2 separate regions of the Homo sapiens genome follow, and region 1 is linked to region 2. A link means that fine-mapping ties the variant in region 2 to the expression of a gene that starts in the linked region. Tissue or cell type: thyroid. Region 2 holds a variant in brackets; the other region holds the start of a gene. All regions are shown on one strand. Distances are between the middles of the regions.

The links. PIP is the estimated chance that this variant, and not a neighbour inherited with it, causes the effect.
Region 1: AQP5 starts here. The variant in region 2 is fine-mapped to the expression of AQP5 in thyroid (GTEx, PIP above 0.99).

What each region holds. Positions count from the first base shown.
Region 1 is chr12:49,960,799-49,963,298 of GRCh38, forward strand. It overlaps AQP5 (aquaporin 5), which reads left to right and starts at 1,074. Exons shown (of 4, transcript NM_001651.4): 1 at 1,074-1,582. The coding sequence starts at 1,220. It overlaps AQP5-AS1 (AQP5 and AQP2 antisense RNA 2), which reads right to left and starts at 1,985. Exons shown (of 3, transcript NR_110591.1): 1 at 1,869-1,985.
Region 2 is chr12:49,864,627-49,867,363 of GRCh38, forward strand. FAIM2 (Fas apoptotic inhibitory molecule 2) reads right to left here. Exons shown (of 12, transcript NM_012306.4): 12 at 2,270-2,737. Among named protein-coding and RNA genes, the nearest start is that of BCDIN3D, 23 kb to the left of the region's middle. The variant G/A (reference allele first, on the strand shown) is at 1,701.

The DNA.
Region 1 (2,500 bases), 96 kb after region 2:
AAGACAGAGACAAAAAGAGAAATAGGGTTTTGCAAAGACTGACTGACAGAAACAGATTTCGAGGGGAGAGAGATCAAGACCAAGTGAGGGTTTGAAGGAGACTTAGGGGAGGTGGAGGAAGAGAAGGAGAGTCTTAGATCCAGGGTGAGGGGCTTCTAGCAGGAAGAGGGAAGACGCCAAGACCGCGCTTGGGAGGTCAGTGGTGCGTCTCTACCCCCCCTGCTCCCCCACTCCAACTCCCAGAGTCTCAAGGCCTCACGTCACACCCCCGTCCCGTCCCGTCGACAAGGGGAACCCCGGCCTGGGAGAGGGCGCCTCCGGGGATCCGTTGCCTAGTCCAGGTACTGCCCAGCTACCGGGCGTCGAGGATTGCGAAGCGTCGGGGCAGGCTGGCACGGTGCCCACTTTTCCCAAAACGCCAGCCTTCCAAGCCCAGAAGCTCGCCCGGCCCAGGCCGGGAGCGGCCCACGTCGGACGGCCGGACCGCCCTGCAGGACCCAGCCCGGCCGCCCGCCCCCGCCGCCGGCGGTGAGGGAGGTGAGCGGCGCCGACCTGCGGGACGAGCATCACTCCGACCCAGCCGGGGGTGAGGCGGGTCAGGATGCTCCGGTCGCAGGAGGAAAAGGAGGAGCTGGACCAAAAGCCCGAAGAGAAGAAAAGGGGAAGGCCGCGCACGGAGCGCGGTAAAGGCCGGCGGAGCTAGACGCCCCGAGGTCGGAGTGAAGCGCCGGGACCGAGCCCCGTCTCCCAGGGAGTCCGGGGCGCACGGCACCGAGGAGAGCGCGGGAGCCAACCTGGGCGCATCATGCGCAGGGCCCGGGACGCTGGGCCGGTCTACACCGCCGCCTGGGTCACGTGGCCCGGACGGGCCGGCGGCTGCCCCGGCCGGGGGGCGGGGGTCGCGCCGGGGTTGCGCTGGACGACGGAGAGCGGCGGGCCCGCAGCGGCCTGGAGCCTCCCAACCCGCGCGCCGCGCTGGCCCCCGAGCGTAGGAGCCGCCCCCTGCCCCCCCGCGCCGGCCCCGCGCCCGGCCGCCCGCCCCCTATATAGCGCGCCCCAGCAGGGCCCGCGCCAGGCCGCCAGCCTCGGAGTGGGCGCGGGACAGTGCGCGGCGCCCCGCAGCCAGGCCCCCGCCCCCGCCGCATCCACCTCCTCCGCCGCCTGCGACCCAACGGGCGCCCCCCGCCGCGGCAGCTGCCGCCGGGCCCCCGCGGCCACCATGAAGAAGGAGGTGTGCTCCGTGGCCTTCCTCAAGGCCGTGTTCGCAGAGTTCTTGGCCACCCTCATCTTCGTCTTCTTTGGCCTGGGCTCGGCCCTCAAGTGGCCGTCGGCGCTGCCTACCATCCTGCAGATCGCGCTGGCGTTTGGCCTGGCCATAGGCACGCTGGCCCAGGCCCTGGGACCCGTGAGCGGCGGCCACATCAACCCCGCCATCACCCTGGCCCTCTTGGTGGGCAACCAGATCTCGCTGCTCCGGGCTTTCTTCTACGTGGCGGCCCAGCTGGTGGGCGCCATTGCCGGGGCTGGCATCCTCTACGGTGTGGCACCGCTCAATGCCCGGGGCAATCTGGCCGTCAACGCGGTGAGTGCCCTGGGGGGGGGGTGGGAGCCTCGACCCTGGGGTGGGCTCAGGACCAGGCCTCTTACCCCACCTGGAAAAAAGGGGTGCCGCAGAGTGGGCCAGCCCACACCCTTCACCAGGAAGGCAAGAGCCTCCCAAGGCCAGGAAGGCAACTCTCCAGGCTGATATGTGCTCCCTTCCTGCCCACCTCCTCTCCCCCTCCCCTCATGCTGGCCCACCCTGGTCTCTCTCCAATGCCTGCTACCCCTCCTCTCCTGCCAGAAACTTCTGCCTCCTCCTGTCTCACCTTTGAGCTCCACCTTCCTCCTGGGCCCCTCACCTCTCCCATCACCTCAGTGGAGCGGTTGAGTAGAACCACCAGAGAAAAGCGGGCTGTCATCACGGCTTTGGGTGACCCTGGCCTGTCTGTGCTTCATTGTTCTCAGCGCCTCCATGGGGATGGTTGTGTCTGCCACAGCAGGTGTCAAGGGGCTCACATTTAGAAACCGTAGATAGGAACCCCCTAATGTGGGGCCAGTGCAGAGCAGTTTCTGTTGAGTATTGGTTCCCTCTTTCCCCAACCTGTGCTCCTCCCCTCAACCCCGCACCCCTGCCTCCCTCCCACCTCCTGCAGCCCCAGAGTCAGCCCCCAACCCCATGCAAACTGGGTTCATTAATCAAACACAGAGGAGGATTTGCTTGGCCATTGTCAAGCTGTGAGTCAGCCGCACTGGAGAGACGGGTTTAAGGCTGGCACTGGCATGGGGCCAGGCACGGGCAGGAGGCCGGGATGGGGTGTGAGGCAGGCAAACCGGGCAGCTGCCCACAGGATGGAGGGTAAATGCCAGCTTATGGGGGCTGGGGGTTGGGCAGAGCCATTGATAGGCCCGTGTCCAGGAAAAGCTACCCTGACGCTCTGCCCTTTGGCCACAGGCCTGA
Region 2 (2,737 bases):
GCAGGGTTTCCCCAGATAAAGCAAGCAGAGAGTGTGGAGGGGAGTGGAGGATGAGAAGCTGGGAAGAAAGCATCTTAGCCATCCGTGGTGTGTGTGTGTGCGCACACACGCATGTGCATGTGTGTGTGTGCAGGCACACACACAAAATCTGTGAGGGCAAACAGGTTTGCTGGGAGTAGCCAGACTTGAGTAAAGACAGATGGTATAAGTGAGCTGGATGAGGTTGCTCAGCTCTGGGATTTCTCCAGTCTCACTGGGGGCTGGGTACTGTATGTGAAGACTGTCCCATGGGTGGGGGATGCGTACAGAGGCCACCACGGGGCAGTAGCAGCCAGAAGAGAATGAATGGTGTAAAGGGTTGAATAGGGGCCCCCTCAAGAGAGATATGTCCAAGTTCTAAACCCCTGTACCTGTGAATGTGACCTTTTTTGGAAATAGGATCTTTTTCCAAATAAAGATCTTGAGATGAGATCATCCTAGATTTATTGTAAGCCTTAAATCCAGAGACAGGTATCCTTCTAGGAGGACGGAGAGGGAGCTTCAAGACACAGAGACACAGAGGAGAAGGCCATATGAAGATGGAGGCAGAGACTGGAGGCGCCATTGCCAAGCAACACTGCGGATCACCTGCAGCTGCCAGAGGCTTGGAAAGTGCTTGCCACAGGCCCTCCCTCAGAGCCTCCAGCAGGAACCCACCCTGCTGACACCTTGGCTTCAGGCTTCCAGCCTCCACAGCTGTGGTGAAATGAATCACTGTTGTTTTGAGCCACCCAGTTTGTGGCAATTTGTATGGCAGTCCTAGGAAAGCTAACAGGCAGTCCAGGTAAGAATGGGTGGTGAGGCAGAAGGGATCTGGAGGCAGGGGGTGGCAAGGGGGCCCAGCGTGTACCCCAACCTAGACCATTCATCCCTTCCATCACACCAGCCCCTGCCCCTCAACATTTTGCACACTTTGAGCCCTGATCCAGGGATCTTCCCTTTCCCCGGCGACACGGCTCAGCACTGCTTCCCCGGTGGGGCTGCATCTTCTCAGGACCCACGGCTGCACGGTCTCGAGCCACAGTGCCTGGTTTCTCTCTTGCACCACCGTTGGTATCTTCTCCCTGTCCTATCTCTCACAATCTGTGGAAGTGCTTTGTATGCAGTGAGCGCTTAATAAAAGTCACTTTTCTCTCCTCAGAGTCCTCTAACTCTTGCCCCAGCCACTTTCCCTACTCCAGCTGAATTTGTGTCCTAACCTTGTCAGAGACAAGGATAACGTCCCCCATGGCTCCAGTGTGATGGCGTTCCCTCCCCTCCCACACAGCGCCCTGGCCCCACATTCCCCACAGGAGCTTGTGGGGTGATCATTAACCCATGCGCCTCCTGACCCCACTTCCAGTCGTTAATTTGTGCGTAAACTTGGACAAATCGCTGCACCCTCTGCTCCTTAGTTTCCTCTCAGGTAAAATAAGAGGGTTGGAGTAGACACATTCACCTATGCATTCCTCCATTCGCTAGTAAGTTGTTTACTGAGACCGTGCGTCATAACTCTGCCTTCAAGGAGCTTTGGTTCTGTAGGGTTGTTGTTTTGTTTTGTTTTTTTTAAGACGGAGTCTTGCTCTGTCGCCCAGGCTGGAGTGAAGTGGTGTAAGCTTGGCTCACTGCAACCTCCGCCTCCTGGGTTCAAGCGATTCTCGTCTCAGTCTCTTGAGTAGCTG[G/A]GATTACAGGTGTGCGCCACTACGCCCAGCTAATTTTTGTGTTTTTAGTAGAGACAGGGTTTCACCATGTTGGCCAGGCTGGTCTCGAACTCCTGACCTCAGGTGATCTACCCACCTCGGCCTCCTAAAGTGCTGGGATTACAGGCGTGAGCCACTGAGCCCAGCCAAGGTTCTGTGGTTTTAAAGCTGCCGCTCTGGACAATCTGTCCAGATGCAACCCAGGCATTCCTTCCTTCTGTGTACCTTTTAGGAAGCAGATTTTGGCTCAAAATAAGAAAGACCCTTCTACCAGAACGGCCCACAAACGGACAGGCTTCCACAGAAAGGGGTGAGCCCCTGTTCCGGAGGAGACTCTGGGATTGCTTCTAACTCCGGGATCCTGAGAGCCTCCGTAAAGGGTTTATTGAGCAGGAGAACCAATTTAACCCTGTCCACATGAAAATAAACATGGAGATTTACTTCAAACTCAGCAGCTCTGGTGAGAAGGCTCTCACACAGGTCCGGGTTTGACCCACACAGACTCCACGACCATCTGAGGCAACCAGCACACGGCAGACGAGGGAAACAACTCAGGTGTCACAATTGCTTTTATTTTTATCTCCAGTCAGTCACAGACCCCAGGAAGGTGAGGTCAGGGAAGGGAACAGGTGCGGACACTGGGGAACTTGCAGGAGCTAAGGCCAGTGGACAGCAGGAGTGTCGGGGGTGTGGCAGCTGGCCTGGGTCCCTGGAGCTGTGTCTGCCCTCAGGGACTCAGGAGAACGGCTCAGGGAGGGCTTGGGAGGGGGTACACTGTGTCCGAGAGATGCAACCATCGTTCGGCAAAAGAAAACAGCGGTGGCTGATGAGAAGACAGGTCTGGGGAGGTCTGAGGAGAGCTCGGGCCAGATCCTGCCCCCAACCTCCAGCCACATGGGCCCTCGGTGACTCTCCCAAACCAGGCCCTGCGTTTCCTCAAGCAGCCACTGGAGGGCAGCAAAGTGCTTATGCAAAAATCCCACCCCGCCCAGGAGAGCAGCCAGGACACCTGGGACTTG